Linked DNA regions of Homo sapiens. The protein of the gene in region 2 interacts with the protein of the main gene of each other region in a biochemical or structural test. Each region holds a gene or a part of one and is shown on either strand. Other genes may lie near its edges.

What was found.
Region 1: of the proteins of SRPK2 (region 2) and ZNF234, one has a biochemical effect on the other in vitro, tested with the Homo sapiens proteins (one large-scale study listed by BioGRID).
Region 3: of the proteins of SRPK2 (region 2) and MYLIP, one has a biochemical effect on the other in vitro, tested with the Homo sapiens proteins (one large-scale study listed by BioGRID).
Region 4: of the proteins of SRPK2 (region 2) and MAP3K20, one has a biochemical effect on the other in vitro, tested with the Homo sapiens proteins (one large-scale study listed by BioGRID).
Region 5: of the proteins of SRPK2 (region 2) and RNF4, one has a biochemical effect on the other in vitro, tested with the Homo sapiens proteins (one large-scale study listed by BioGRID and IntAct).
Region 6: of the proteins of SRPK2 (region 2) and CLIC5, one has a biochemical effect on the other in vitro, tested with the Homo sapiens proteins (one large-scale study listed by IntAct).
Region 7: of the proteins of SRPK2 (region 2) and RASGRF1, one has a biochemical effect on the other in vitro, tested with the Homo sapiens proteins (one large-scale study listed by BioGRID).

What each region holds. Positions count from the first base shown.
Region 1 is NC_000019.10:44,154,714-44,159,163, forward strand, and holds part of ZNF234 (zinc finger protein 234), read left to right. Parts: intron 1-1,538; coding exon 1,539-3,406; 3' UTR 3,407-4,450.
Region 2 is NC_000007.14:105,126,631-105,131,080, reverse strand, and holds part of SRPK2 (SRSF protein kinase 2), read left to right. Parts: intron 1-2,188; exon of another isoform or gene 2,189-2,295; intron 2,296-4,018; coding exon 4,019-4,088; intron 4,089-4,450. UniProt on the Homo sapiens protein: Serine/arginine-rich protein-specific kinase which specifically phosphorylates its substrates at serine residues located in regions rich in arginine/serine dipeptides, known as RS domains and is involved in the phosphorylation of SR splicing factors and the regulation of splicing.
Region 3 is NC_000006.12:16,141,926-16,146,375, forward strand, and holds part of MYLIP (E3 ubiquitin-protein ligase MYLIP), read left to right. Parts: intron 1-1,094; coding exon 1,095-1,292; intron 1,293-1,773; coding exon 1,774-1,938; intron 1,939-2,971; coding exon 2,972-3,392; intron 3,393-4,450. UniProt on the Homo sapiens protein: E3 ubiquitin-protein ligase that mediates ubiquitination and subsequent proteasomal degradation of myosin regulatory light chain (MRLC), LDLR, VLDLR and LRP8. Activity depends on E2 enzymes of the UBE2D family.
Region 4 is NC_000002.12:173,228,866-173,233,315, reverse strand, and holds part of MAP3K20 (mitogen-activated protein kinase kinase kinase 20), read right to left. Parts: intron 3,628-4,450; coding exon 3,583-3,627; intron 1,125-3,582; coding exon 1,094-1,124; intron 997-1,093; coding exon 857-996; intron 1-856. UniProt on the Homo sapiens protein: Stress-activated component of a protein kinase signal transduction cascade that promotes programmed cell death in response to various stress, such as ribosomal stress, osmotic shock and ionizing radiation.
Region 5 is NC_000004.12:2,471,390-2,475,839, forward strand, and holds part of RNF4 (E3 ubiquitin-protein ligase RNF4), read left to right. Parts: intron 1-4,450. UniProt on the Homo sapiens protein: E3 ubiquitin-protein ligase which binds polysumoylated chains covalently attached to proteins and mediates 'Lys-6'-, 'Lys-11'-, 'Lys-48'- and 'Lys-63'-linked polyubiquitination of those substrates and their subsequent targeting to the proteasome for degradation.
Region 6 is NC_000006.12:46,005,343-46,009,792, forward strand, and holds part of CLIC5 (chloride intracellular channel protein 5), read right to left. Parts: intron 1-4,450. UniProt on the Homo sapiens protein: In the soluble state, catalyzes glutaredoxin-like thiol disulfide exchange reactions with reduced glutathione as electron donor. Can insert into membranes and form non-selective ion channels almost equally permeable to Na(+), K(+) and Cl(-).
Region 7 is NC_000015.10:79,080,437-79,084,886, reverse strand, and holds part of RASGRF1 (ras-specific guanine nucleotide-releasing factor 1), read left to right. Parts: intron 1-4,450. UniProt on the Homo sapiens protein: Promotes the exchange of Ras-bound GDP by GTP.

The DNA.
Region 1 (4,450 bases), on a different chromosome or scaffold from region 2:
CTTCTAACTCCTGAGTTCAAGCGATCCTCCATCTCAGCCTCCCAAATAGTGTTAACTACGGGTGCGTGCCACCACATCTGGCCAATTTTTTTAAAAGTTTTTTTGTAGGGCCAGAGTCTTGCTATGTTGCCCAGGCTGGTCTTGAACTCCTGGGCTCAAGTGATCCTCCGGCTTCAGCCTCCCAACATGCTTGGATTACAGATGTGAGCCACTGCACCCTGCCAAGAGGCAGCTTTTAAATGACTATTCCTGCAGGAGGGGAGTAAGTTTTTCCTCTGTAAAAATTTCCTTAGAGGTACGTCTTTCTGCTAAACTTTTGTGGAAGAGTTCATTTAAAAAATAATTTCCAAATATTTATATCTCTTTATACAAGATTAAACATTTTGGAATATTATTAAGGATAAACCTTTCAGAAGGGTTTAAACATTTTAAATCTAAGTTATATTAGAAGTGGTCAAGAGTTTATAATAGTTGTCAGCTCATTTAATGTCTGTCAACACAGAAAAATAAGATTAAGTGTATATGTTATGCAGAATATTCAAGAATATGGTTGATCCTTGAACAACTTGGGGGTTAGGGACACCAACTCCCCTCACAGTAAAAAATCCAAGTATAACTTTTGACTCCCCTCTAAAACTTTACTCATGGCCTACTTTGACTGAAAGACCTACTGATAACATAGTCAATTAACACATATTTTGTATGTTATAATGTATTGTATACTATATTCTTACAATAAAGGAAGAATTCTTTATTCTTACAATAAAGAGAAGAGAAAATGTTATTAAGAAAATTATAAGGAGGAAGAGGAGGGGTTGGTCTTGCTGTCTCAGGGATGGCAGAGATGGAAGAAAATCCATGTATAAGTGAACACATGCAGGTCAAACCTGTGTTGTTCAACGGTCAACTGTATTTTGAACATGTAAATATAAACATTTCAGGTTATTTAATAATTTGAATATGTAACATGAACCTAAACTGCAAAATATTTGATTATTTTCTTACTTTCCCTTGAAGTTCTTGTTGATTTATATTATCTACATTTTTTTTTAACTTTTAATATTTTTAATAGAGGTACATTCTTGCTTTGTTGCCCAGACTGGTCTCAAACCCCTGGCCTCAAACTATCCTTCTGCCCCAGCCTCCCAGAATGCTGGGATATACAGGCATGACCATGCCTGGCCTATGCTTTTTATATTTAGATAATTTACTATTTATTATTCTACACTGACTTTAAAATTCGATGGAAATGGCAGTACAATTTGTATCATGTTAATTTTTAAAATTAACTCTGACTTCTAACTTGTGTCTCACATAGGAGACTTGGTATGGTCTAATGCCTGGTAGATAGCAGCCAATTGGACCACCTCTTGATTTATCTAGGCATGGAAATCAGAGATCATGATACACAGTGGAAAAGACCATTACACAAACTGGACCTTCTCTGGATTTGTTAAAATCGCATGCTCTCGCCTAAGTATGACATCTTGAAAACTTTTAACAGAGCCTCCACATCTCTGAATTCTCTGTCCTTACAGCAGACAAGATCCAAAGTGAGGTGGAGACTGTTCCAGAAGCAGGACGACATGAAGAGCTTTACTGGGGGCAAATCTGGAAACAGATTGCAAGTGATTTAATCAAGTATGAAGACTCTATGATAAGTATTTCTCGGTTCCCCAGACAAGGTGATTTGTCCTGCCAGGTTAGGGCAGGACTATATACAACTCACACAGGACAGAAATTTTACCAATGTGATGAGTACAAAAAATCCTTCACTGATGTCTTCAACTTTGATCTTCATCAACAGTTACACTCAGGAGAGAAGTCTCATACATGTGATGAGTGTGGAAAAAGCTTCTGTTACATCTCAGCCCTTCATATTCATCAAAGAGTCCACATGGGAGAGAAATGCTATAAGTGTGACGTGTGTGGTAAGGAATTTAGTCAGAGCTCACATCTTCAAACTCATCAGAGAGTCCACACTGTAGAGAAACCATTCAAATGTGTGGAATGTGGGAAAGGCTTCAGTCGTAGATCAACACTTACTGTACATTGCAAATTACACTCAGGAGAGAAACCTTACAATTGTGAGGAATGTGGAAGGGCCTTCATACATGCTTCCCATCTTCAGGAACATCAGAGAATTCATACTGGGGAGAAACCATTCAAATGTGATACATGTGGTAAGAACTTCCGTCGTAGATCAGCACTTAATAATCATTGCATGGTCCACACAGGAGAGAAACCATACAAATGTGAGGACTGTGGTAAGTGTTTCACTTGTAGCTCAAACCTTCGTATCCATCAAAGGGTCCACACAGGAGAGAAACCTTACAAGTGTGAAGAATGTGGTAAGTGCTTTATTCAGCCTTCACAATTTCAGGCCCATCGGAGAATCCACACTGGAGAGAAACCATACGTATGTAAAGTGTGTGGTAAGGGTTTCATTTACAGTTCAAGTTTTCAGGCCCATCAGGGAGTCCACACTGGAGAGAAGCCATACAAATGCAATGAGTGTGGGAAGAGCTTCAGAATGAAAATTCATTATCAAGTGCATCTGGTAGTCCACACAGGGGAAAAACCCTATAAATGTGAAGTATGTGGTAAAGCCTTCCGTCAGAGTTCATATCTTAAAATCCATCTGAAAGCACATAGTGTACAGAAACCTTTTAAGTGTGAAGAGTGTGGGCAGGGCTTCAATCAGAGCTCACGACTTCAGATTCACCAGCTGATCCATACCGGTGAGAAACCATACAAATGTGAAGAGTGCGGAAAGGGATTTAGTCGTAGAGCAGATCTTAAAATTCATTGTAGGATCCACACAGGGGAGAAACCATATAATTGTGAGGAGTGTGGGAAGGTCTTCAGTCAGGCCTCGCATCTTCTAACCCATCAGAGAGTTCACAGTGGGGAAAAACCATTTAAATGTGAAGAGTGTGGGAAGAGCTTCAGTCGGAGTGCACACCTTCAAGCCCATCAAAAAGTCCACACTGGAGAAAAGCCATACAAATGTGGGGAGTGTGGAAAGGGCTTCAAGTGGAGCTTGAACCTTGACATGCATCAGAGGGTGCACACAGGAGAAAAACCCTATACATGTGGGGAGTGTGGGAAGCACTTCAGTCAGGCCTCAAGTCTCCAACTTCATCAGAGTGTCCACACAGGAGAGAAACCATACAAATGTGATGTATGTGGTAAAGTCTTCAGTCGGTCTTCACAATTACAGTATCATAGGCGAGTTCACACTGGGGAAAAACCTTACAAATGTGAGATATGTGGTAAGAGGTTCAGCTGGCGATCAAATCTTGTAAGTCATCACAAAATTCATGCTGCTGGTACATTTTATGAAAATGATGAGAATAGTAAGAACATCAGAGAGTTGTCAGAGGGAGGAAGTTCTACAAGGTGATTAAAAAAAAAAAAACAGAACTCATGTACAACCTGAATGCTTGTAATTAGATTTCATAGGAGGGAAAAATTTTCTTTATCAACCTCTTTGAATTTATTTGATTTGTAACGCTCCACATTTCCACCTAGACTTTTTTTTGTTTTTTATTTTTTGTTTTGAAACAGAATCTCGCTCTGTTGCCCATGCTGGATGCAGTGGTGCTATCTCAGCTCACTGTAACCTCCACTTCCCGGGTTCAAGTGATTCTCCTGCCTCAGTGGATTACAGGTGCACACCACCACGCCTGGCTAATTTTTGTATTTTTAGTAGAGATGGAGTTTCACCATACTGGCCAGGCTGGTCTCAAACTCCTGACCTCATGTGATCCACCCACCTCGGCCTCCCAAAGTGCTGGGATTACAGGCATGAGCCACCGCCCCTGGCCTCCATCTAGACTTTGAAATGATTGCCTTCTAATTACAGTAGCATTCTCTTATTTAAAATATTTGTTTTATTTAAGTCAGTGTTTAAGCAATAGCTCAGCATATCCCAGTGGTCCAGTGACCACACAGCTGAGAACCCTTGTTAAGTGGTACAGTAAAGCATTCTGTCAAAACTTTGACATTTATGACATGTTACCTAGGAAATAGGACTTAGAAAATGAGTTTGACCTGGGCTTTAAAAAAGTATACTGATGAAGGTGCCAGAATTGATGTCCATTAGACTGTAAGCTCCATGGGGGCAGGAACTTTGCTACCGAATCTATACAACCTTAACATTGACTAGTGCTTGTAGGTGTGCTCAATACTTGTTTGTTAACTGAATCAAAAGGAGTAAATGCACAATATTTGAACATTGTATCCAAAGGAAGAAACCTGCGAAATAAAATTATTTGCAGAAATGAACATTTGTTGAAATGCAGAAAACCACTGGATACTGCAGCCTACAATATTAATATGATATTACTCTTTTACAGTTGACACCTGTCCTCTCTGTAGTCTCTTCTCTCAAATTTGGTTCTTATTGAGAGCCTGTCTAGTTTCCCAAAGGTTTTATAAAACATAA
Region 2 (4,450 bases):
AGCTTTCAGCACAATTTTATACCAGGTTATCTGACCTGCCTTCCATTAGATGAACGTTTGTCCCTCCATACAATTTCCCTGTCCTGCTTACTTCTTGAAATGCTATTGCTGTGAACAGTGGCATAAATATCAATAACAGATTCCCAAGGAAAAGCCTTTCTGTCTTCTCACCTGCCCCCTTCCCAAGAATTAAGCATAAGCTCCCTCAGTGCTGTCAGGACGGCTTATGAGGTTTGCTTTTTCAGTTGGTTGTCATAAGGGAGGTTTTTTTTTTTTTGGAAAGGGGCAGGCCCTCATTCACTGCTTGCCCCACCCCCCAAAAGTCATGGCTTTAGAGGTTTCTTTTGTTCCTCCTAGAGAACCTAGGAGCAATGAGGCAGTTTTTCTTACCTCATCGTTCTGTTGTAGTGTAAAAATAGGACATTTAATATATTAAATTTGACCTCATAATACCAAGCTGTCATAAGGCCACAGATGGTTCTTGGTGGTAAAGCCTATATATAGTCTTTGAGGGTTTTGTTTGTTTGTTTGGAGACAAGGTCTTGCTCTGTTCCCCAAGCTGAAGTGCAGTGGCAGGACTATAGTTCACTGCAGACTCCACTTCCCAAGCTCAAGTGATCCTCCCACCTCAGCCTCTGGTGTAGCTGGGACTACAGGCACATGCCACCACGCCTGGCTAATTTTTGTATTTTTTGTAGAGATGGAGTTTGTCACGTTGTCTAGGCTGGTCTTGATCTCCTGAGCTCAAGTGATCCACCCGCCCTGGTCTCCCATAGTGCTGGGATTACAGGGATGTGACACTGTGCCCGGCTGTCTTTGAGATTTATAAATAGCATCAAATCTCACAGAGACTCTGTTGGGAATGAGAGCTGACGGGTGGTAGCCATTGGCTATTGTCAGGGAGGACAGCTTTAGGCTCTGCAGCTGGAGAAGCACAACAGAATGAGGGACCACAGCAAGGGTATGTTGGGTTTGGATCTGTTTTACTTTTCTTGAGTTTTACTTTTTTTTTGAGCTTTACACCTTCCAGTGTAAGTACATATAATCTGAAACTTCTTTGTGGCTGAAGCATTGGTTTCTCTGCATTTATGTATTAGAGTCTCTGATAGGACTTTTTATGAACTCCATGGTGAGTCCTGGTCAGTGCCATAGAAACAAGAAAAGCCATTCCAACAAACTTCACCAGACTTCTTCGGCACTGGTCACATTACAGAACAAATACGTGATCTTATTTGTTCAGAATCGGGATACTTCAGCATAGGAGAATGTTTTAGGAGAGAGGTAGTTGGTCTCCCAAGAATCTGGAAACAAGTAGGTCCAGGGAAGAGCCCTTTGAGGGGATTGAGCCAAGTAGAGAAGAATCCGGAGTTCCCAGGTATTAAAAATAATAATAAAGATTATACTTAGGCCCAGCGAGGTGATGCACACCTGTAATCCCAGCACTTTGGGAGGCCAAGGCAGGCAGATCACTTGAGGCCAGGAGTTTGAGACCAGCCTGGCCAACATGGCAAAACCCCATCTCTACTGAAAATACAAAAATTAGCTGGGCATGGTGGCACGTGCCTATAGTCCTAGCTACTCAGGTGGCTGAGGCAGGAGAATCGCTTGAACCCAGGAGGCAGAGGTTGTAGTGAGCCAAAATTGTGCCGCTGCACTCAGCCTGGGCAATAGAAGGTTATACTGGGAGTAACTGAGTTGAAGGCAGAGTTTTTTTCATTGTAATGTGCATTTGCCCTGTTGTACATGTTGTATTGTTAAGAGAATCTTGCCACTCTCCAAAGAATCAAAAATGGGTAGCATTACAGCCTTCATCTTCCTTGTTCCTTTAAAAAAAAAGAAAATTATTTGGCCGGGCTTGGTGGCTCACGCCTGTAATCCCAGCACTTTGGGAGGCCGAGGCAGGCGGGTCACGAGGTCAGGCTAACATGGTGAAATCCCGTCTCTACAAAAAATTAGCCGGGCGTGGTGGCGGGCGCCTGTAGTCCCAGCTACTCAGGAGGCTGAGGCAAGGAGAATGGTGTGAGCTTGCAGTGAGCTGAGATTGATTGTGCCACTGCACTCCAGCCTGGGTGACAGAGCGAGACTCCGTCTCAAAAAAAAATTATTTCATTGATTGGCTTCTATACATGTTTTCTTGGGAATATGTGGGTGCTAATCAAAATGATGATTTTTTTCAAAGAATACATACCTGACATATTTTGGCAGTAAGAAATATGTACAAAGCTGGGTGCAGTGTAGTGCGCCTGTAGTCCCAGCTTCTCTGGAGGCTGAGAGAGGATCACTGGAGCCCAAGAGGTTGAGTCCAGCCTGGACAACATAGCGAGGTCCCTTCTCTAAAAAATATGAAAGAAAAAGAAATATATGCAACCAGATTGAAGTCATTTTGAAAATTAATTAAAAGAGTTAGTTAGCATAGGGCTCAAGGCAGGGGTTGAAAAGCAGCTTGGAACTTGATCCAGGCTTTTCAAGTCCTCGTTGTCCCATTAGAGTTTTCAGATTTTTCTCTTAGCTTGTAAGATACTGAATTGATTGTTTCCCAGGCTAGAAGGACTCTCCTGGCCATTGAGTGTGTAATCTAGTTGTTCCACTTGGATTTGGGGCCAGTTATGAGGTTTTCCTGCCCTCATCTGGGATTGGCCCAACTGTCTTCTTTGTTTATTGGGTGGAAAGGAGAGGCCCTACATAAGGGCTTTCCTGGGTTTTCTGCTGGTGCCTTCGTGCATCCACAGTGCTGGGACCACCAGCTCACCATGCTGAGATGTGACATGTCCGTGTCTTGCTCAGACCTATGCCAGGTTCAGGGCAGGGATCCTGAGTTCATAAATTAATGCTTATCGCTCGGTCAGCTGGAAGCCATCTTGTCACCATCCTTCCTTCCTTCAAGTGATTGACAGGCAGTCTTTTTTTTTAAAAAAGGTGAAAAGATGTGGTCCTGGGCTGACTGCACTCACTCTTGGTTTGTTAAAGACAGTGCCAGGAGAGGTGGCCCCTCACCCAGGCAGGTGAGCCTTCCCTTAAAGGTGCCTTTCCAGCACTGTGTGGTCATTGAAAGAAAAAGAAGGTAGGTTGATGCAGTGAAGTTTCCCCAGTATTGGCTCCTTGGGGCGGGAATGGGGAGGGCAGTCACAGATCCACAGGCATCAGTGATTGGGCCTCTGAGCACCTTTTGGGACAGCAAGATCCGTTCAGAATAGAAGCAGCTATGAGAAAAACCAGAAATGGGATTTAGCTTATTCTTTTTTTCTCTTTTAAAACATTCTCTTTGATCAGCAGAGCAGTAGCAGTTGCCATTTTTGTATATTGTTACTAGCTTAAACTCATGTTTTTGAGGGTTTTTTTGTGAGCAAGGGAAATGTGTTCCCTACATGCTGGCATGCTGAGGGACAGCCAGTGGCCACCCAGGAAGCCAGTGCTCCGTGACATCCACAAAAGGGTCTGCAAGACCATCTGCTTCCTCTGGCCCTGGGGACAAAGAGGGTCTTTTTTGTTTCCAGGTTTTCCTTTGGTTGAATCAGAAATGAATGAAATGATGATGAAAATGGTTGATGAGATACTGAAAATAGTCCTTGGTTACTAAAACATGAAGGTCTTCGCCTAAAAGACGCAGCAGTGTCTGCTATACAGAGGCCAAGGCTATTATAGTGGTTGAGGCAGGTGCTGGAGTCAGACGGGCCTTGTTGAGTCCTGGGTTGAACTCTCGTTCTACCATTTATAGAGTGCATACCGCGCTCTGGCCAGGCCTGCATGCAGGTGCGGCTGACTCACTGACGTTTTGGTTTTGCTTCCTGCAAAATGAAGAGAATACATAGCTCTTATATCTTTCCTTAGAAATGTAAAAATACTTCTGAAACTTCTTTGAATGTGGAAGAAAGAAAAAAATTAGTATTGAGCACTTTCAGGAGGCTATTTTGTTTGATTCAGATCTTCATAAAGTGGCGGTCTCTTCTATAAGGAGAAAAAGCTGTTGACTTGGGGGCCAGTCTCTGAAGTGCTTAGCATGTCGTCTGTTGTATCCTAGGCATTTGAGCTGGCAACGGGAGATTATTTGTTTGAACCACATTCTGGGGAAGACTATTCCAGAGACGAAGGTGAGTATTGGTGCCTGCTGAATACCTCGGTCTAGGTCTTCTGCCAGCCCTGAACTTCTGTAGAGTACTGTATTTTTGTACTGAAATAGAGCCATGTGTTTGGTTTTCAAACACCAAATTCAGATGCTTTTCCTTTGAGTTTGATGCCCCCTCAGTCTCAGTGAATGGGCAGAGCCTGCCTAGCACAGGCAGCACTCCAGCGAGCCCTCAGGGGCCCTACACCAGCGGCTCTTCCTGGCCTTGCACAGGGCAGGAACCCAGCTGGCTGAGAGAAGACAGATGATACAGACCTGAAGCCTCTATGTGGTCCTTTTGACCATTGATGTGCTGCCCATTTCTCTGTCCTGTTTGGGAGCTGAGTT
Region 3 (4,450 bases), on a different chromosome or scaffold from region 2:
CTCTCTGATGTTCGAGGCACTTAAGAAGTCATACATAATATACATGTTATGTCAAATACTGTACCAGAGGAATAGAGGATTTGCATGTGATACAGACCAAAGGGTATCCAAGCAAGGGGACAGAAAGAATGGCCATCAGGACAGAGGGAGCAGCAAGACCAGAGACACCAGAGCATGAACATGGCAGCATCAGGGCTACTGCATATATTCATAGAGCTATCAAATGTATAAGCATTTCCAAAAGAAGATGAATCTGTGGTACATACACATAATTTGTGAAGTTAAGACTGGGCCATTGCCCAATTTAACCAAATATTTTCAAAAAATTTGTTAGCCTTTTATTTGAAAAATATGTAAACACAATATGAAATGCTATATAAAATGGGAATTTTTTAAATCTGTGCCTTTAAGTACAAATCTCCTAAAATAAAAAATCTATTATGTATATTGGTGTTTTCTTCATCCCAGCAAGAATTAAACCAGGAGATCTAACATAGGCATTTTAGTTATCTATTCCTGCATAACAAGTTACCCCAAAACTTAGTGACATAAAACAACAAAAATTGTCTCACAGTTCTGTAGGTCAGGAATCTGGCCATGTCTTGGCTGGGTCCTCTGGCTCATGAGACTGTAGTCAAGCTGCAGGTAGAACTCTGTCTCATCTGAAGGCTCGACTGAGGGTGGCCTCCATGCCAGGTTGACTCCTGTGGTTTGTTGGCCTACCTCCTTCCCTGGCCACAGGGGCCTCAGGGGTCAACTTTATACTTATAAACTATATGTGGACAAATGCATGAGACTTTCCAATATGTAAATTTGACTTATGTATATTTTTAGAGACTTTCCATAATTCTTCCAATTCATCACCCATCCAGCATCCCCAAAGTGTTTTTACCAAGTATTTAATAGTTGAGATCCCAGTGTCTTAGACGTTTTTTATAGTAAGTTCGCTAAATACATGAAACATCAGTAATACATAAGTTTTAAGTTGTTGTGATTCATCAGTGTTAGTATATTTCACTCGTGAAGACTACATAGGTTTATCTCTAAAGCTAATATCTGTATACTTAATTCTCTGTCCTCTTGGTGTCCTCCAGCATTGTTGCAAAACATAAGGAGTTGGAGGGGACCAGCCAGGCTTCAGCTGAATACCAAGTTTTGCAGATTGTGTCGGCAATGGAAAACTATGGCATAGAATGGCATTCTGTGCGGGATAGCGAAGGGCAGAAACTGCTCATTGGGGTTGGACCTGAAGGAATCTCAATTTGTAAAGATGACTTTAGCCCAATTAATAGGTAAGCCAAGACTTAACTTTTTTTGACCTAAGCATGTGTATACATCTGTAGCTGTCAATGTAATAGAAAATAGGAAGGGATTTACTCGACAGTCAGCTCTTAGGAATGAAAGATTTCATTTTGGTATGTACATTAATTTTATTCAGGCCTAAATAACCATTTTAAATGTTATTCAAGGTATACAATGTGGCAGAGTTAACGTTTTCCAAATAACCCATTCACTGCCATAAAAAACTTGTTTTCAGCTCTAGACATGCATGTGCGCACACCCAGCACTTGCTCCCATACTTCCCTCCACATATGCCCAACTGCTTTTCACTGTATCTTTACAATAAGGCAGCATTATGGTGATGTGATAACCCCAGAGGAAGCGTCTGATTTTTCTGCTAGGTCATGAGCAAATGGGGATCCCACAAAGGCACACACATGGTGAAGAATCACTCCTTCTAGATCTGCTTTCTTTTCTCTTCCTGTCTCTTAGGATAGCTTATCCTGTGGTGCAGATGGCCACCCAGTCAGGAAAGAATGTATATTTGACGGTCACCAAGGAATCTGGGAACAGCATCGTGCTCTTGTTTAAAATGATCAGCACCAGGGCGGCCAGCGGGCTCTACCGAGCGATAACAGAGACGCACGCATTCTACAGGCACGTATCTCGTGTGCTTGGTCACCTCAGCACCACAGCTCTCAGGTTTTTAGGTGACAACCAGGTTTCTACGGTTCCTTGGATTGTTGTGTCAATGAGTCTAGTACAGAATTTAAGAAATTCTGAACATTTTGTTTCCGTAGTAGCAGTGGAGTCCTTATTAATGTAGTCTTGTTTTACCCACAGAAGGTGCATGTGTGTGAGCTGCACAAACACATTCTCTGCTTACCTCCTACCGTATTCTCTTATGCCATTAATCTAGACACAAAGTGTGTTAGGAGATTTCTATGCCTATTTAATCAATACAACAACCCTAAGGGGTTATTATTACCCTAATGTTAAAGATGAGGGAACTGGGAGGATAATTATTTACTTAGTCTAGGACTCAGCTTCAAAGCCAAGTTTGATTACCCTAAAGGTAACCCTGAGGGACTGGGCCTGCTCCACTGCTCAGGAGAAGGATAGCACAGATCATCTTTTCTTTCTGGCAGAGCTGCTATCCTGAGTCGTCACTGTGTATGGAAGGATTTTTTAATAGCAATATTGATTCCCTCATTTCAGAGGGTACTTTAAAGCCAAGTTGTGATTGGACTCACGTATTTGGACAATTAAAGCTAAGAAATTTAAGTCGTAGACAACTTTAAACTTTTTTATTTTAAAATAGATACACAAATTGTGAAACAGGATGGGAAATTTTTAGACATTTCTAACCTAAAAGCCAAGACTTCAGGCAGATGCCCTTTTTCTTCCATAAGCAACTTCACTCAGTAGCGTCTGTCCTGGGGAGGAGGTACGTGCTCACTGCCCTCTGTATTTACTGCTTTACGGAAGCCATAATGTCAGGAGATGTTAGAGAAACAGAGGTGTAATCACTGAGAATATTTACCAGACGTAAAACTGGAAGGACTTACTTTCATACATGCAGACGAGACTATGAAACATCTGCTGACATTTCTGTTCTTATTGACAACAGCGAATAAGGGTGCTGCCAGGCTCTTTGGTGTTAAAGTAGATGTTCAATCTTGCCTTGCAGGTGTGACACAGTGACCAGCGCCGTGATGATGCAGTATAGCCGTGACTTGAAGGGCCACTTGGCATCTCTGTTTCTGAATGAAAACATTAACCTTGGCAAGAAATATGTCTTTGATATTAAAAGAACATCAAAGGAGGTGTATGACCATGCCAGGAGGGCTCTGTACAATGCTGGCGTTGTGGACCTCGTTTCAAGAAACAACCAGAGCCCTTCACACTCGCCTCTGAAGTCCTCAGAAAGCAGCATGAACTGCAGCAGCTGCGAGGGCCTCAGCTGCCAGCAGACCCGGGTGCTGCAGGAGAAGCTACGCAAGCTGAAGGAAGCCATGCTGTGCATGGTGTGCTGCGAGGAGGAGATCAACTCCACCTTCTGTCCCTGTGGCCACACTGTGTGCTGTGAGAGCTGCGCCGCCCAGCTACAGGTAGGGGAGTCAGCTGCCCACTTTTGCCTGCAGCCTCACCTATCCCTCCTCTTAACGGGGAGTAGGAGCCAGGTACTGGCTCGCTAATGCACAGACGGGGAATGCCCATCTTCACCCGGAAAGGGTCTTTGTATTTGGTGACCTAAAAGGCATTGCCCTTTAGAAACATTTTAGATTAGCATACTATTTTCAACAACATAATTACTCCAAATTATGCAGTGTTTTCAAGTTCTGAAAATGAGGCTGAGATTCCTGGGTAACATATCTAGTTAGCGGCTTACCTGAGGACAAGAATCCAGGCCTCCTGAGGCCTGGCCCAGGGCTGCTTCCTCTATTTCAAGTTGCCTCCCTTTTTCTGACACTTAGGAGGATGGTCTTTATTACTTAAGATATTTGGGAAAGAATACTTCTCAATTATCCATGGATGGGTTGTTGACTCTGTGATATTGGTGATTAATTTCCTTTTATGATTGCAAATGCCTCAAGGGCATATGGGTTGGCTGTTATTTATTAGCAAGTCAAACTAATTTTAATATTAACACGAAAAAGAGAACTCACATATAGTTTTCTTCCTTTCTTGCATGAAGAAGAATTTTAAATTTCCTCTTACAAGTTTTTTCAATTTGTTTTTATTTCTCAGATGTGTTTGCCAAATGTCACTGTGGTTTTATGTAAAACTGGTTCTAGATAATACTTAGTCCTTCAGAAGCTGCTAATTTCAGAGCTAATAAGACCAAATGACCCCTGTGTCCTTTCCCCAGAAGCAGTCATAGGCTTGTCTTTTTCTGCCCACCTATTCTGACTCTCATCCCTAAGTCTCTCCTGAGGGCTGATGATGGGCACGGGCTTTCTGAGAAGTCAGCCAGGAATGTGGAGCTGCCACCTACGGCTAGAAGCAGAGCCACCCTCCCTGGCCATGTGGGCATCAGCCCAGAAATGTTGGCCTGAGTCAGTCAGCTGAGCTAAGGACACACAATTTCAAGAAGGGTCTCCTGCATTGCTGCCTGAAGTGTTATAGTCTACTCATGTAGAGACCACATTCTGCACAGAAAGACGTC
Region 4 (4,450 bases), on a different chromosome or scaffold from region 2:
GTGGTGTCTGTTCCAGGTCATAATGACAAAAATTACAAATGCCTTTAGGTTACTGCATTGGCTTAGGTTTCCCTTTGGCCATGCAGAAATTCTGGGGTCCTTAGGGATTCCTGATGGATTTTTGTCCTCTCTAGAATTAAACTGAGTCACCTCCTGCTATTCTGGGTGGATGGCTGTTTTCCAGGCACCACACTGCCTTTGTGGTATTTCTTACAGCCGTCATTTACCATTATCGCATAGGCAGTATCTGTTTTCTCCACCAGATTAGAGACTTCCTGAGGGCAGGGGGGTGATATTCAGGTTATCTCCCTGTGAGTCCTACTATACCATGTATGCACCTTTTTGCTGTTTGGATTATGAGGAAGGAATAGGGGTGCCTGGGGGCAGCTGCTGATTATCAACTTGTGTAAGCATTTCAGCACAGTAATGACCAGCATAGCACTGTTTCCATCTGCAGCCCCTAACACGTGATCTGCTGCATAGTAGGTGCTCAATAAAGATTTGTTGATGGAGGCCAGGCCTGGTGGCTCACGCCTGTAATCCCAGCACTTTGGGAGGCTGAGGCAGGTGGATCATTTGAGGTCAGGAGTTGGAGACCAGCCTGGAAAACATGGTGAAGCCCCATCTCTACTAAAAATACAAAAATTAGCTGGGTGTGGTGGCACGCTTCTGTAATCCCAGCTACTTGGGAGGCTGAGGCAGGAGAATCACTTGAACCCAGGAGGCGGAGGGTGCAACGAGCCAAGATTGTGCCTTTGCACTCCAGCCTGGGCAACAGAGCAAGACTCTGCCTCAAAAAAAACCAAACAAACAAAAAAAGGGTTTGCTGATGGAATGTTGTCCCTTTCTCAGGTACCTTGAAGTGAATGATATGCCCCTTGGAGACAATGCCCATGTCTTTCAGGTCTTCTTCCTCCAGCAGCAGCAGCCGCTTCCCTGTAATGTTGTTTTCTTTAAACAAGCTTGCATATACACTCATCTCTGCTGAAGAGTCACCTGAAGGAAGTGATTAGAAAGCAGAATAAAATTAGATGAAATCACATCCAAAACAAAGTTAACTCCATGATTGAAGAAGGTAACTTATTCCACTTGCCTTTTCTGACGAGCTGCTGAACCCAACAATACTGTGAAAGAGAGGACACATACGGTTTTGAAGATTCACACATGGTCAGTGGCCAGTCTTCACAGTAAACATAGAGTTTTCAATAGATCAAAATAACTTTAATTCCTGGCTCAACCACAAAGGTAAAATAGAAGACTTTCTCTTTGTAGTTTTAAAACCTCAAGCTTTCAAATGGGAGATATCCCTCTCTTCGGGGGTCTTGGACAGTTAAAAGCCCCTTGGTTTTCCTCCTTCTTTGGGAGATATTTTTAAATCCTTTCAAGAGGGTTCTTACTTATAGTGATTTTTCCATTTATGTGCCAGTGGTCCCCTGGATTGCTGAGGGGCACCAGTTTACTCAGGAATTGTATGAGTTCCAGGGACCACACAGCAGTGGACAGAGCAACAGACAGAAGGAATCTTTTGTTCTAGGCCAGGTCATGAAGTAGCCACGTGGCCCCAGCCAAGTCAAAGTGTGGAGCTTCCTATGTAGAATGAGGAGATTGGACCCAGTGACCCTTAGTCCCTGTATATCACAGGGTCTGGGTTTACTGGTGGCCTCTCACAGTACCTTGGTGAGGAGAGAAGGATGGGAGGCCAGACTCAGTCCCTGTGATTCTCTGGGGAGCCCTCAACTCTGGAATTTTATTTAAGTGGCCTGGAAGCCACTCAGCCTCAGAGCAAAGACTAAAAATAGCTGTTAGAACTCAGTGATTTTTCAAAAATTTCTTTTCAAATGACAGGGGAAACTCTGCAGCTAGGGATAAAGAGATGATATCCAGGCTTGTGAATAAAGGAGACCCTGAGTCCTCTTTCCTTGTTAAGCAAGGCTGGCAGGAAAGTGAGACTCACTGGGGCTCAGTGAATGGGAAGAAATAGTGGCAACTGGTGCCAAGTTTCCTTACCCTACGGAAGCCAAAGAGGTTAGCTAATGTTGAAAGCAGGTGCACTTCAAAAGAATACAAAGGGCAGAGAGGGAAATGCCTGGGCCCAAAACCAGGTTGAGCTAGGTAAACAGATCTTTTGAGGAGTTTCCAGTAGCTAGTCTGCACTTTGTGGCACCTGGTCTGTTCCCTGGGCTGGAGCCCAAACCCACTAAGGCTGGCATTACATCTTTTGTTTTTTTCATTTTCATTTAGTGATACCCTGAGCTTGTTAAATAGACCTGGATAGCATAAGTCCCTGAGTTTTATAGAACTTAAAAAAAATTTTTTTTTTGAGATGAAGCCTTGCTCTGTTGCCCAGGCTGGAATACAGTGGTGTGATCTCAGCTCACTGCAACCTCCACCTTCCATATTCAAGCGATTCTCTTGCCTCAGTCTCCCAAGTAGCTGGGATTATAGGCATGTGCCACCACACCTGGCTGATTTTTGTATTTTTAGTAGAGATGGGGTTTCACCATGTTGGCCAGGCTGGTCTCGAACTCCTGACCTCAAGTGATCCTCCTGCCTCAGCCTCCCAAAGTGCTGGGATTACAGGCCACCGTGCCCAACCTAGTCTCTGAGTTTTCACATCAGGAATTTTCATACCTGTTTTGTCACTAAAAAAATAGATATGGTGATGTAACAGACTAAGTTGGATTGTTTCTCAGGGTTTCTATCAAGAATGCAGAGTGCAGGACTTCTTTTGGACTTCAACAGTCTGAGTGCAGCCTCTCAAAAACATAGGGCTTCTCTGGCTAAAGCTACAGAGAATGTCTGGGCGTGCTTGTGTCTATTCCCACTTGGGAGGCCAGAATAAGGCTGGCAAATATGATGCCTCACTTTCAAACAGGCCTGAGGTGGAAGGAAAGCCGGTTCAGCGGTGTACCAGCCCAGCACTGCCTTGACCAGATCCTCCTCTACCATGGCTCGAGGCCATCCCTGTTCTTGTAAAAAGATTTAATATCACTTTTTTTTCAAGTATGTTCATTTGTTTTCCCGAGCTGCCACTTTAATTTCCTCATGGGTATTTGTTATTGTATTCTGGAATAGTTTCAGAGTAATTTAGGAAGGTAGAACCCACTTAGAAGATTTGCAGAGATACTTGCTTTACTCTTGAGGCTTTATTTTCAATCATTATTGCATTAAAAACAGAAAAAAAGGCCAGGCACAGTGGCTCACACCTATAATCCCAGCACTTTGGGAGGCTGAGGCGGGCACGTCACTTGAGGTCAGGAGTTCGAGACCAGCCTGGCCAACATGGTGAAACGCCATCTCTACTAAAAATACAAAAATTAGCCAGGCATGCTGGTGGGAACCTATAGTCTTAGCTACTCAGGAGGCTGAGGCAGGAGAATCGCTTGAACCTCAGGAGGTGGAGGTTGCAGTGAGCTGAGATCGCACCACTGCACTCCAGCCTGGGAGACAGAGTGAGAAAAGAATTTGTCAACCTCTCCTAGTTAGACTTTCCTAAGGCCCAATCTCTTCCCCTAAAAACTTAGGGAAAAATTTATGAAATACCTGCTCAAGTCAAATAAGGCATGAATACAAAGAGCTTACCACATCGTCTTCCGTCCATGCACCAATCTCAAAGGAAGGCAGCAGCTGCATGGGAAATATGCATGAAATGAAAAAAAAAAGTAATATTATCATTGTCTTTTTGGTTCATCCTCTTGTCTCACTCTTTCAGCTCTCAGCTGCTGCTCTGGCTTGGTTCCTCCTGCAGGTTGGGTTGAATGGAAAACAGTTTTCCTGACCTTAAGAGGCAGTTCTCAGTGCTCCAGTAATGTTCACCAATCTCTCAGTAACAATTCATGTACTTTGGGAGCTGTATCATATTCCTTTGTTGGTACCTGGTTTTTACATCCCACAATCAAGCCTCAGCAGTCAAGCAATTTCTGACATTTTCTCAGAGACCTAGAGTCTTCCTCAGAGTCTCAGCCAACATGAGGACTGTTGGATTATTAATGAAAATTCCAAAGCAACCACTTAGTAACCAGATCATGTATTATGCCTGTTCTCAAGGGGGAATTTCTAAGTGTTGAAAGATCTCATTTGCACAATATTTTAAAAACCAAATGTTAGCACTCACGGATGAAGAAGGACATGGGAAATTGGTACGGTCCTAAGAAACCCAGGCTGCAGAGTTGCTCTAACTAAAACAGATTAAAATACCTCCCTGTGAGGTTCACAAGTACAAATGAAGATGCCTCCAGAGGACTTCAGCCTGCACCATTTTCAGAGCCAAAGAACTACTTACTGTCTTCAATATATGCCCCATGGCCATCTAAATAATAAATGCTTACATAATTTTTAGAAGTCTGTGTGTCCTATAAGTCAAATTAGAGTTTGGTACAGCTATTAGCTTTAACTAGCCTAACTTGCCCCCCAAAAATGAATTGCTTATGAGATAATATGGCAAATTGTC
Region 5 (4,450 bases), on a different chromosome or scaffold from region 2:
CACTGACTGGCAGTTCCCAGTCTCTCTCCTCAGGCCTCTCAATTCCTTGAGACACAATATTGAAATTAGGCCAGTCAGTGACCCTACAGTGTCCAGGCAAAAGGAGCAGTCAGTTGAATCTCTCTTACTTTAAGTGAAGTTAAGAAATGTTTATCCTTAGTGAGAAAGGCGTATCAAAAGTTGAGATAGGCCAAAAGCTAGGCCTCTTGTGCTGAATGACAGTTAGCCAAGTTGTGAATGCAGAGGAAGAGTTCTTGAAATTAAAATGCTACTCCAATGAATACATGAATGATAAGCCAAACAGCCTTATTGCTGATAGGGAGAAAGTTTTAGTGGTCTGGATAGAAGATCAAACCATCCATGACATTCCCTTAAGCGAAAGCCTAATCCGGAGCAAGGTACTAACTCTCTTCAATTCTGTGAAGAGTGAGGAAGCTGCAGAAGAAAAGTTTGAAACTGGCAGAGGTTAGTTCATGAGGTTTAAGGGAAGAAGCCACCTCTGTAATGTAAAAGTGTAAGGTGAGGCAGTAAGTGTTGATGAAGAAGCTGCAGCAAGTTATGCAGAACATATAGCTAAAATAATTGATGAAGGTGGCCACACTAAACAACAGACTTTCAATGTAAATGAAACAGCCTTATATGGAAAAAAAAATACTATCTAGGACTTTCATAGCTAGAGAAAGGTCAATGCCTGGCTTCAAAGGACAGTCTGATTCTCTTGTTAGGGGCTAGTGTGGCCAGTGACTTAAGTTGTAACTAGTGCTCATTTACCATTCTGAAAATCCTAGGGCCCTTAAGAAGTATGCAAAAATCTACTGTGTGCTGATCATTGAAACAGGAAAGCCTGTATAGTAGCATATCTGTTTACAGTATGTTTTACTGAATATTTTAAGCCCACTATTGAGATCTACAGCTCAGAAAAAAAGATTTCTTTCAAAATATTACTGCTCATTGAGAATGTGCTTAGTCACCAAAGAGGTCTCATGGAGATGAGTAAGATTAATGTTAACATCTGTTCTGCAGCCCATGGATCAAGGAGTAATTTCAACTCTCAAATCTTACTTAAGAAATGCATCTTGAGGCTGAGCACAGTGGCTCATGCCTGTACTCGCAGCACTTCGGGAGGCCAAAGCTGGTGGATCGCTTGAGCTCAGGAGTTAGAGACCAGCCGGGGCAGCATAGTGAGACCACCCCCTCCACTGCCAGTCTCTTAAAAAAAAAAAAAAAAAAGGGCGGCAGGGGGAAAGAAAGAAATGCATTTTGTAAGGCTACAGCTACATAGATTGTGATTCTTCTGATGGGTATCAACAATGTAAATTAAAAACCTCCTGAAAGGATATACTATTCTAGATACCATTAAGAATATTTGTCTCCAGGCACGGTGGCTCACCCGTGTAATCCCAGCACTTTGGGAGGCGAAGTGGGCGGATCACAAGGTCAGGAGATCGAGACCATCCTGGCTAACATGGTGAAACCCCATCTCTACTAAAAATACAAAAAATTAGCCGGTCTTGGCAGCGGGCACCTGTAGTCCCAGCTACTCGGGAGGCTGAGGCAGGAGAATGGTGTGAACCCGGGAAGAGGAGCTTGCAGTGAGCCAAGATAGCACCACTGCACTCCAGCCTGGGCAACAGAGCGAGACTCCATCTCAAAAAAGAAAAAAAAAAAGAATATTTGTGATTCATGGGAGGAGGTCAAAATATCAACATCAGCAGTTCACGGTGGCTCACGCCTGTAATCCCAGCACTTTGGGAGGCTGGGGCAGGCAGATCACCTGAGGTCAGGAGTTTGAGACCAGCCTGCCCAACATGGTGAAACCCCGTCTCTACCAACAAAATACAAAAATTAGCCAGGCATGGTGGCACGCTCCTGTAGTCCCAGCTACTTGAGGAGCTGAGGTAGGTTAATCGCTTGGGCCCAGGAGGTGGAGGCTGCAGTGAGCCGAGATTGTGCCTCTGCACTACAGCCTGGGCAACAGTGAGATTCCGTCTTAAAAAAAAAAATCAATTAACACAACAAGAACTTGGAAAAAGTTGATTCTGACCCTCATGGGTGACTTTGAGGGGTTCTAGACTTCAATGGAAAAAGTAACTGTAGATGTGGTGGAAATAGCAAGAGAACTAGAATTAGAAGTAGAGCCTGGCCGGGCCTGGTGGCTCACGCCTGTAATCTCAGCACTTTGGGAGGCCTAGGCGGGTGGATTACGAGGTCAGGAGTTCACAACCAGCCTGGCCAGATGGTGAAACCCCGTCTCTACTAAAAATACAAAAAATTAGCAGGGCGTGGTGGCGCACGCCTGTAATCCTAGCTACTCTGGAAGCTGAGGCAGAGAATTGCTTAAACCTGGAGGGGCAGAGGTTGTGGTGAGCCGAGATCACACTACTGCACTCCAGCCTGGGCGACAGAGCGAGACTCTGTCTAGAAAAAAAAAAGTAGAGCCTGAAGGCTGGGCCTGATGGATCACCTGAGGTCAGGAGTTGGAGACCAGCCTGGCCAACATGATAAAACCTTGTCTCTACTAAAAATACAAAAATTAGCTGAGCGTGGTAGTGGGATTGTTACTGCATAGTAATCCCGGCCACTCCAGAGGCTGAGGCAGGAGAATTGCTTGAACCCAGGAAGCAGAGGTTGCAGTGAGCCAAGATCGGGCCACTGCACTCAAGCGTGGACAATAGAGTGAGACTTTGTCTCAAAAAAATAAAAGGGCCAGGCAAGGTGGCTCACACCTGTAATCCCAGCACTTTGGGAGGCCAAGGCAGGCGGATCACGAGGTCAGGAGATTGAAACCATCCTGGCTAACACGGTGAAACACCGTCTCTACTAAAAACACACAAAAAAATTAGCCAGGTGTGGTGGCACGCACCTGTAATCGCAGCTACTCAGGAGGCTGAGGCAGGAGAATCGCTTGAACCCAGGAGGCAGAGGTTGCAGCGAGCCGAAATCACGCCATTGCACTCCATCCAGCCTGGTTGACAGAACGAGACTCTGTCTCAAAAAAAAAAAAAAAAAAAGTAGAACCTGAAGATGTGACTGAATTGCTGCAATTTTTAAATAAAACTTGAACACATGGAGAGTTGCTTCCTGTGGACAGGCAAAGAAAGTGGTTTCTTGAGGTGGAATTTACTGCTGAAGGTGCAGTGAACATTGTTGAGATTATAACAAAGGATTTAGAATATTTTATAAACTTAGTTAATAAAACAGTGGCAGGGTTTGAAAGGATTGACTCCAATTTTGAAAGAAGTTCCACTGTGGGTAAAATGCTGTCACACAGCATTGCACGCTACAGAGAAATCTTTCATGAAAGGAAGAGACAACTGATGCAGCAAACTTCATTTTAAGAAATTGTCACAGTTGGCCCAGTGCGGTGGCTCACGCCTGTAATCCCAGCACTTTAGGAGGCCGAGGCAGGCGGATCACCTCAGGTTGGGACTTCCAGACCAGCCTGGCCAACATGGAGAAACCCCGTCTCGACTAAAAATACAAAAAAATTAGCTGGGCGTGGTGGGGCATGCCTGTAATCCCAGCTACTCGGGAAGCTGAGACAGGAGAATTGCTTGAACCAGGGAGGCAGAGGTTGCGGTGAGCCAAGATTGCGCCGTTGTACTCCAGCCTGGGCAACAAGAGTGAAACTCCATCTCAAAAAAAGAAAAAGAAAAACTGTCACAGCTGCCCCAACCTTCATTAGCCACTGCCCTGATCCATGAGCAGCCATCATCAGGGCAAGACCCTTCACCAGCAAAAATATTACAACTTTGTGAAGACTCAAATGATCATTAGCATTTTTTATTTATTTTTTAAGAGAATATCTCCCTGTTGCCCCAGTTGGAGTGCATTGGTGCGATCGTAACTCACTGCAGCTTCCAACTTCTGGGTTCAAGAGATCCTCTCACCTCAGCCTCCCAAGTAGCTGGGGCTACAGGCGCACGCCACCGCACCTGGCTTTTTGTTTGTTTGTTTGTTTGTTTTTGAGATGTAGTCTCACTCTGCCGCCCAGGCTGGTGTGCAGTGGCGCGATCTCGGCTCATTGCAAGCTCCGCCTCCCAGGTTCACGCCATTCTCCTGCCTCAGCCTCCCGGGTAGCTGGGACTACAGGCACGTGCCACCATGCCCAGCTAATTTTTTGTATTTTTAGTAGAGATAGGGTTTCACCGTGTTTGCCAGGATGGTCTCGATCTCCTGACCTCAAGATCCACCCGCCTCAGCCTCCCAAAGTGCTGGGATTACAGGCGTGAGCCACCTCGCCTGGCCCACACCTGGCTAATTTTTAACAAAGTTTTGTAGACTGGGTCTTGCCCTTTTGTCCAGGCTGGTCTCAGACTCCAGACTCATGATTTAATATCTATGGTTGAGTGATTCCCTACTTCTTACTCTCTTACAGAACCACTCTATAAGATAGTTGTTGTAGTTAGCCCCATTTTACTCTTCCTGAGGCACTGGGAGATCAGGGTCA
Region 6 (4,450 bases), on a different chromosome or scaffold from region 2:
AGGTTGATATAGGATATGGGGTAACTGGCACAAAACTTCTACACACCAAAGCCTGTGGGTAACCAGAGACGTGCTGCAAAGGCCTCCCACGCCAAAACACCCTGCCTCAGATGCAGGGCCAAATGCACCATGTTTAGATAATTAAGCACTTCCCTCTTTTAAACTACAATTGCTCCACAGGCAGGTAGGGGCACAGCAGTCTTCCACTTTATAAACAAAAGTCTGGATCCCCCAGCTTGCCATCAGAGATGCTTCATGATCTGATCTGCTAGATCTGAATGTTTGTGTCCCCCCAGAATTCCTATGCTAAAATTTCATCTCTGAGGTGTTGGCATTAGCAGGTGGAGGCTTTGGGAGGTGATTAGGTCATGAGGGTGGAGCCCTCACAAATGGGATTAGTGTTCTCATGAGGGGCTGAAGAGAATAGAGTTATCCTCCTCCACAATGTGAGAACCCAGTGAGAAGGTGACAGCTATGAACCACATTGTGGCCCTCACCAGACACCAAATCTATTGGTGCACTGATAGACTCCCCAGCCTCCAGAACTGTGAGAAATAAATTTCTGTTGTTTATAAGCTACCTAGTTCATGGCATTTTGTCATAGCAGCTCAAAGAGATTAGGACAGAGCCTATGTGTGTATATATATATATATATATTTATATATATATATATACACACATGTATAAATATATATACATGTATAAATATATATATACATGTATAAATATATATATACACATGTATAAATACATATATATATATATATATACACATGTATAAATACATATATATATATATATATATATATATATATATATTTAGATGGAATCTTGCCCTATCGCCCAGCCTGGAGTGCAATGGCGCAATCTTGGCCCACTGCAGCCTCCGCCTCCTTGGTTCAAGCAATTCTCCTGCCTCAACTTCCTGAGTAGCTGGGATTACAGGCATGCGCCACCATGTCCAGCTAATTTTTTGTATCTTTAGTAGAGACGGGGTTTCACCATATTGGCCAGGCTGGTCTCGAACTCTTGACCTCATGATCTGCCCACCTCAGCCTCCCAAAGTGCTGGGATTACAGATGTGAGCCACTGCGCCTGGCCCCTAACTTACATTTTTATCTGCCTTCCCAATATCCATTCACACCCTCTTCAGCACAGCCAAGCAGAGCTCTGAGTTTTCTGGGACACATCCGGGCTTGTCTTGCTTCTGAGCCATTGTTCACATGATTTCCTTTGCCTAGGACATTGCATTTATTTCCTACCTCTTATTCCTTGATCACCTTGGCTAACTCCTCACGTGCCTCATTCCTCCCTCTCAAATGATATTTCTTTTTTTTCCTTTTTTTTTTTTTTTGAGACAGTCTTGCTCTGTCACCAGGCTGGAGTACAGTGGTGCAAACTCAGCCCTCTGCAACATCCACCTCCCGGGTTCAAGCGATTCCCCTGCCTCAGTCTCCTAAGTAGCTGGGGCTATAGGTGGGTGCCACCACACCCGGCTAATTTTTTTGTATTTTGCTAGAGACGGCGTTTCACCATGTTGGCCAGGATGGTCTCGATCCCCTGACATGATCCCCCTGCCTCGGCCTCCCAAAGTGCTGAGATTACAGTCATGAGCCACCATGCCCAGCCCCAAAAGACATTTTTTAAAGCAAGTCCTTATTTCTGTACTTCTTCTCCATGCTCCCTCCTCTGGGGAACCTCCTCCGTCACCTGTAGCTCTGAGCAGAAGTTCAGATAAAATCCCTAGCCCTGAGCCCCTGTGATCCTCAGCTCTGATCCTTCAGCATTCTAAGGAACATCTGCACAGGACTGGCCTGCCAGCACTTCAGATTACACCATTCCAAATCAAACGATTTTAATGAACAGCAACTCCCTTCCTCACAGGATACATAGGCTTTCTTCAGAGTTAAAAGGAAACTTAAAGCTCAATTAGTTTGTCTGTACTCTTCAATTTACAATATCTTAGACAGTAATGGTCAAGCCCATCAAAGATATCACCATTCTAGATGTGGACACTAACCTTTCCAGGGGTGAATGTACCAGGAAACTGCTGAGTCTTCGGTGTTGGTGCCCCTAATATACACTATTTGCACAGGCTTCTTCCAAGGCATGCACCTAATTTTGTATTCACTTCTGTATTCCACAACACACTCTGTCTTTTGGCCCTTGTTTGGACTCACTTGGCCTCCTGATGGGACCACTGGGATAGCCTCCTCACTGACTTCTGCCTCAGGGCTCTCCTTATTCCAACATGGTCACAGTGAATGCAGCCGTAATAGCAATGGCAAAAACAGCAGCAGCTCACATTTTATCTCACTACTCTTCCTTAAACCCACATAGCGTATATCCCAAAGTGTTAGATTGGGAACTTATCTCATCAGAGAAGGTCAGACTGGATGACTTCTGGAAGCTTTTCCAAATAATAAATTCTATGGTTTTATGAATGTTGATCACATTTTATAGAAAAAAAAAACTTACCCTTAAAGCAAGTCACGCAACCAGTGCGTGGCAGACCTGGAATCCAGATCTTCTTTCTTTTGTTTGTTTGTTTTTTCCTGTTTTTTTTCTTTTTCTTTTTTTTTTTTTCCCGATTTTCATTTGCACAAATTTATGGGGTACATGAGCAATTTTGTTACATGCATAGATTGTGCAGTGATCAAGTCAGGACTTTTAGGGTATCCATCATACTTTGAGTTCATTGATTTTCCCACTAAAGCACGAAGTCCAGCTATCAATCTTTCTAAACATAACCCAAGTCAATCTCCTATTGTGTGTAGACACTTCCAGTTACTCCCCACTACTTACAAGGGAGCAGATACCACTTACCTCCCATTCAAGGCCCCCTCCTGCCACTGTTGTTGGCTTTTTTGCTGTCCTATTTCCAATTGCTCCTTTCATATACCACTTGCTTCAGACAACCCCGTGTACTCATAAGCCCTGAGCATCCCCATCTCCACACCTTTGCTGGACCTGACATGGTTGCTCACTTTTGGCCACCTCTGAATCCTGATCATTCTTCAAGACTCAACTCAGGTCCCACCCTACCCAAAGCTGGGCCTGAAGACACCATTTGGGCCACACTGGTCCCATCATATGCATGACTCATTGCATTCCTGTCACTCATGTGCCACTGATGCTTGTTTGCATTGCACTCCTCAGTGGCACTCTCACAAGCTACTGGAGCCTGTCTTCTTCTCTGATCTCCCCCAGCCCCCTTCAGCTTTCACAGAGCCTGGCACAGAGTAGGTGCTCTGTAAGCATTTTCATATATTGATTGATTGATTATATTTTATCCCCAACTCCCTACATTCTTTATCTTACTATCTCCTTCATGCATTGCCATTTAAAATTATGTGTCACTCCTATATAATAAAAAATATACAAAGGAAGAAAAGAAAAATTACAAAAGAAAGGTCAAAAGCATTTCTTTCCTCCCTTTTCTGGTTTATTTGAGGTCAATCTGGAGTGATTCATGTGAACCAGCATATTGCCTTGGCTACCTCCATCCTGTGAAATGCTTGTTTGAAGTAGCGACTGGACCATATTTTGTCCTTTTGATGCTCCACTGAGTAGTTCAGCCCTATTTACCCATGGTTTGCACCAGTGGTTCTCAGTCTTTGATGGGCTTCAGAATCACCAGTGGGTAGCTTCTTAAGCATACAGATGCCTGGGCCTCACCCCACCCTCCTAAATCTGAAACTCTATAGACAGGACCTGGGCAGGTACAAGTGAAGAAGGCAAGTGCAGTGACTCTTTCATGCCCCAAAGGCTGAGAACCACCAGCCTACCCATGGTTTACCTCCAGTGCTGCTGGCATGGGAAGAGTCTTTGAATCCCCCTTAAAGACTCTTCCCATGCCAGCAGAGCTAAAAGAACTTCTAGAAGTTAACAACTCCATTTCTTTTTACAGGGAAGAATTCGTTTCAGTTCAGACAGTAGGCTATTTATCTTATTTGTCCTTAAAGAATTTCACATCTCAGAACTTAGATACTTCTTTCTTGAAAGAAAAGACACGTTTCCAAAGCAGGTTGTCATTTAGCGAACTGGAAGAGAAATGTCCCTGACTGTGGGAGCTGACCCCTCAGAACACAAGCAGTGTTAGATTTAAGACACCCTGGGTAGAGAGAGTCCTTTACAGAACTACATCTTAGGAAACTCATGCTTAACCACTTTGCATCTTTACTATCTCTAGTTCCTCCAGTCTTGACAACAGATACAACTCAGGATGTGTTCTGGGTAATAGTTTTTTAATAGATACCAGAGAGTGAGAGCCTACGACATTTTCCCCATAATCCTGGTAGATAATACGTGTGCATGTGTGAGTATATTTGATGAGAGCACCTATGGCTATGCATAGCTGGAAGATTGTTGAGGAAGGGGTAGTAAAATCTGCAAAGAGAACCAGGGATCCTCTTGAAAATAAAGAGGATCCTTTACCCTGGCCTGGCTA
Region 7 (4,450 bases), on a different chromosome or scaffold from region 2:
TTGGTTGTAACAGAAAAGAAGACAGGATCAAACCTGAAGTCCATGGTTCTGCCTGAGGCCACCAGGCAGATGCATGTCACCAGTAGAGAGGGGAGAGCTGAAGACAAGCAGGTTTATGGGCAGTGGAAGAGGATGAGTGGCAGTGATCTCATCACATTTAATCTCAGGGAGGTCACATTTGAGAAGCCCAAGGGCAGAAAAGGGCTTTAATGCCCCCACCCTCTAGTATGGTAAGGACACTTATTACAGAAACCAGCGGAGCCCCACGAGGAGGACAGTGGGTGGTGTGTGCTGAGAGGGGTGGACCGAACAAAACGGCATGTGCAGAAGCTCAGCAGGTGGCGGCCCTGTTGTCCAGAGCCCAGGGAATGAAGTGATGTGGCTGCCAGGTGCACCGCAGGGGACGTGCAGGCTGGCTGAGAATAGTGCCAGCTGGGCAGAGCCTCATGAGGTCACTTTGGGGTCTGCCTGCACTCAACGCTTTCACAGCCTGGCCTGGCTGGTCAGCCTTTGCTTGCACTTCTTCAAGAGCAACGAGCCAGCACTGGGAAGTTGAATTTGGCGGCTCGTCTACACTAGGATTTCAGTTTTCAAGACTGCCAGGCAGGTGCCATCACTCCTCCTTCATAGTATTTGCCAAACCTGCACAGGAGAAGTAGGATTTGAACCTTCTCTCCCACTGGGTCACTATAGACAAATCCTTAACTTCCCTTCATCGATGATTTTCTGCCTCATTCTGAGGAGCCCTGGGGGCCACACTCCCACATCAATCAGAGCAGTCCCATTTTTAACTGTTTTATATGTTAGGTTTCCACATGAGATTTTATCTTTCCTAGTGCTTTAAAAAGCTTGACCTTCACCATGAGTTATTACTAAATGCCCTTCAACTCTGCCATGCTATGAATGCAGATTTAAATGTATATAATTTTGTAGCAGGATGTTTCAAAACGCCAGATCAAAAATGTTGAATGACAATAAATACCATTTATTGAGCACCTGCTGTGTGCCAGGCACCAGAGTACATGTTTTACCTACAGCTCTTCCCTTAATTATTCCAACAGCCCTGTGAGGTTATCACTAATTGCCCATTTTCTAGATGACAAAACTGAGGCTCAGAGATGTTAAGTTGTTCAAAGTTACAGAGCAAGTACATGCAGAAGCTGGGCCATGAACCCAGGAGGTCTTCCTGATTCTAAAACCTGAGCTCTTCATCCACAAACACATCATAAAGACTGGCTGGGGACTGTTATTCCTTGCTGTCTATTGCCAAAATACATGGAGAAAGAAAGAGAATTAATAGCAGGTGAAAATATGTCACAGTCGCGCCAGTGATTTTTGTGAAGGCGGCTTTTGTTTCTGCTTGGGTGGGAACCTCGCAACTCTGAATCCCCTGAGCATTGATGGGAAGCGCACCAAGGCAGGCATCCACACCCCACAATCCGGTTTCCCTGGAATCTGTGGGAGCATGGAGCCGGTGCCCGTGTGCGTGCAGCCAAGAACAGAACTCAGCCCCCTGATGTTTATGCAGGAGCACTAGTGACGCGTGGACTTGAGAGAGGTCCAGAACACTGCCAACGCCCAAACACTTCCGTGAGGGCGACTGTCGTGCAGGGAGCAGCTGGGAGGTGTGGACACCCCCACTCTCTGTCCCCGACTCAGAGAGGAGAGTACAGCCCCTCACATGCAGCCTTCATTTCCAGCCTCCAGCCTCCTTCACTGAGGAGTTATTTTGTCCCTGATAGTGAGGCAGCATTGAGAATTCGCAGCCATGGCGACCCGGCATTAGATCCTGGCTCTAAGTCTCGGCTCTGCCACCTCCTAGCTTGGGAAGGCTTTTAAGTTCTCTGAGTCTCAGTTTCCCCATCTCTGTGTTAAACTACACGCTGTTTGGAAAGCCCTAGCACAGCGCAATAGGTGTTATCAGTAAATTGCAGCAGCTGGGGCTTTGGCTTCCACCTTTATGACAAGACTGTTCCTCACTATAGCAGTGACCCAGGTCCCTGGGGTCTCTCGCAGGCTGGAAGCAAGCCAACACTGAGCCCTGACCCTGCATATGAAAATAGGATGGAAATCTTAGCTCAAAGAACCTGTGAGTTCCTGAAAAGGTCCAAGCAAGCAAGCCCTTACCAAAGGACAGATGATTGCTGCAGGAGCTTTCTTCATCCCTGTGGACAAATCATCACGAAGCCCTGTTAGTTTTTCCTCCTGGGTATATCTCTCAGAGCTGTGCCCTCTGTCCCTCTCTTCCTCCACCACTGTGGTCCAGGTTGGCATCACCTCTCACCTGGACTCATCTTACGCAGTGGCCTCCTAACTGGTGTGTCGGTCAGGGTAGGTTGGGTTGTGCTGCAATAACAACCAACCCCCAGATCTCCATCAGCACAACTAAGACTCATCTCTTGCTTGTGCTTTATGTCCCATGCAGCTGGCAGGAGGCCACTGCTCATGATGATCACTCAGGGACCTGGGCTGGTAGAGGCTTGGTCCTGACACCAGCCTCCATGGTCCCCTCCACTGAGGGGAAGGAGTGTGACAGATGTCTCATTGGCTTTTCCCAGAAGGGACCCACTCTGAGCACAGTTCACTAGACAGGGTGAGCCACCTGGCTTTATTTCAGAAGAGGTGCAGAAGTACAGACTTACTGTGTGCCTGGACACAGAGCGCCAGAAAGGCTGAGAGGAGAATATGGTGCTAATGGTAGCCACTGTCCCCACACATGCACTGTGCCCCCACCCCCAGTCCACTGGCCTCTCTGCAGCCAGAAAAATCTTTCTAAAATGCAAATCTGATCATCGGGCACACACACAGTAGCTGAAGAGAGGTTTTATGGTGGTTTCATGAGGACACGGATAGTATGTGGTGTGAGTGTAAGCTCAGAGCTTACAGGGGCAGGATCCTTGCCTGGCCTCCCCTCCTTTCATTAAGCTCGGTGACTCTGTCATTCTTGACCAAATGTCACAGAAGCATTTTGGCCACTAGGCTTCCCTGGAATTAACAAGGGAGAGGATTTTAAAGGCTAAAGTGTCCTCCTGAGATGTTAACACTCCATTGACAGCCTTCACTCAACAGAGATTTACCAGTACCTCTGAGGGGCCAGGCCTATGCCTCCCTGGCACTGGGAGGATGGGACAAACAGCAGGGGCCCTCCCTGGAGGGGCTTGCCATACAGCGAGGGGACAGCCTGTGAACAGACAGTGACAATGCAGTGTGATCCCTGCTGGCACACAGGAGAGCCAAAGAGGGGTGAGAACTATGGGAGTCCAGTAAGGGCACTTCCCCCAGCCCTGGGGTGTGGGGGGTGATTAGGGGCATATAGGTTGCAGGGGACACCAAAGCTGCCCTAAAAGCCTGTGTGCTATGTCACAAAGCTCAGGCCTTCCCAGGCCCAGTGCAGAGCCAGTGCAGGGCTCTGAGTGGGAAAGGGGCTGCTCCGATCTGTGTGTTAGGAAGATCACCAGAGTGTGAATGAACAGGAGAAAACCCATCTGGAGGCAGGAAGCCAATTAAGAGGAGGCTGCAGAACTGAGCAGTAGCAAAGGCCTGAATTTGGGGAGTACCATGAGCACTAAAGGTCTCCCCTCCACTCCCATCCCAGCCGTGACTCAGCCACTGAAGCCTGTGCTTTAGTGGTGGGCCATTAATAACACCCAGAGCTCAAGATTCTGAGACTCTGCAGCCCCATGCCCTCTGCCCCATGCCCTCTGGGGCTTCCCACATCCTGGGTTTGGGGCGGCAGTGGGAATGTCAAATTCTCATCCCGTGAAAGCTTCAAGTGTTGTCTCCACACCTTCCAAGTCAGCCACCCACTCAGATAAAGCACCTTTTCAGATTACAAAGTCTTTTTCACGATTAGCATTTCATTTAACCACCACAGTGACCCTGCAGTTACTGTGGTTCTACATAAGAGAGGCACGATCCTCATTTGACAGACGAGGCTTGCATAGACAGAGTTCATTCTCTCCACAAATACCAATTGAGTGTCTATTTTGTGCCAGGCCCTGAGCTCTCGCTGCTAAATGTCAGAATCAGAATCTGCACCAGGCCTCCAGGTTCTAGGTCTAGTGGACATTGAGGCTGGTTGTTAAATGAGGTCATTTATACTCTAAAGACTAGATTTTACTAATCCATCAGGGCTAATGCAATTTCTTTCCCCTGAAACATGAGATAATTATTTTCCAAAAGATACTTCCTAGTTGAGCTTTCTTTTTTTTTTCAAACTGGAAAATCCAACTCAGATCTTAAAATAAAGTCCTTTCAAAATCAGTTTTAGAAGAATGAATGAATTTTTGGTAACCTTAGCTGGTATTCCAAAACTCCATGTAGAAATTTAGAGAAACGTGATCAAGATGAACTTTTCCTGTGAGACTATATGAGTGAAATATAATCAACTTTGTTTAGATACCTCTTGGGCTCTTAGCCAAACTCAAGAAATTAGTGAAATCATTTGGAA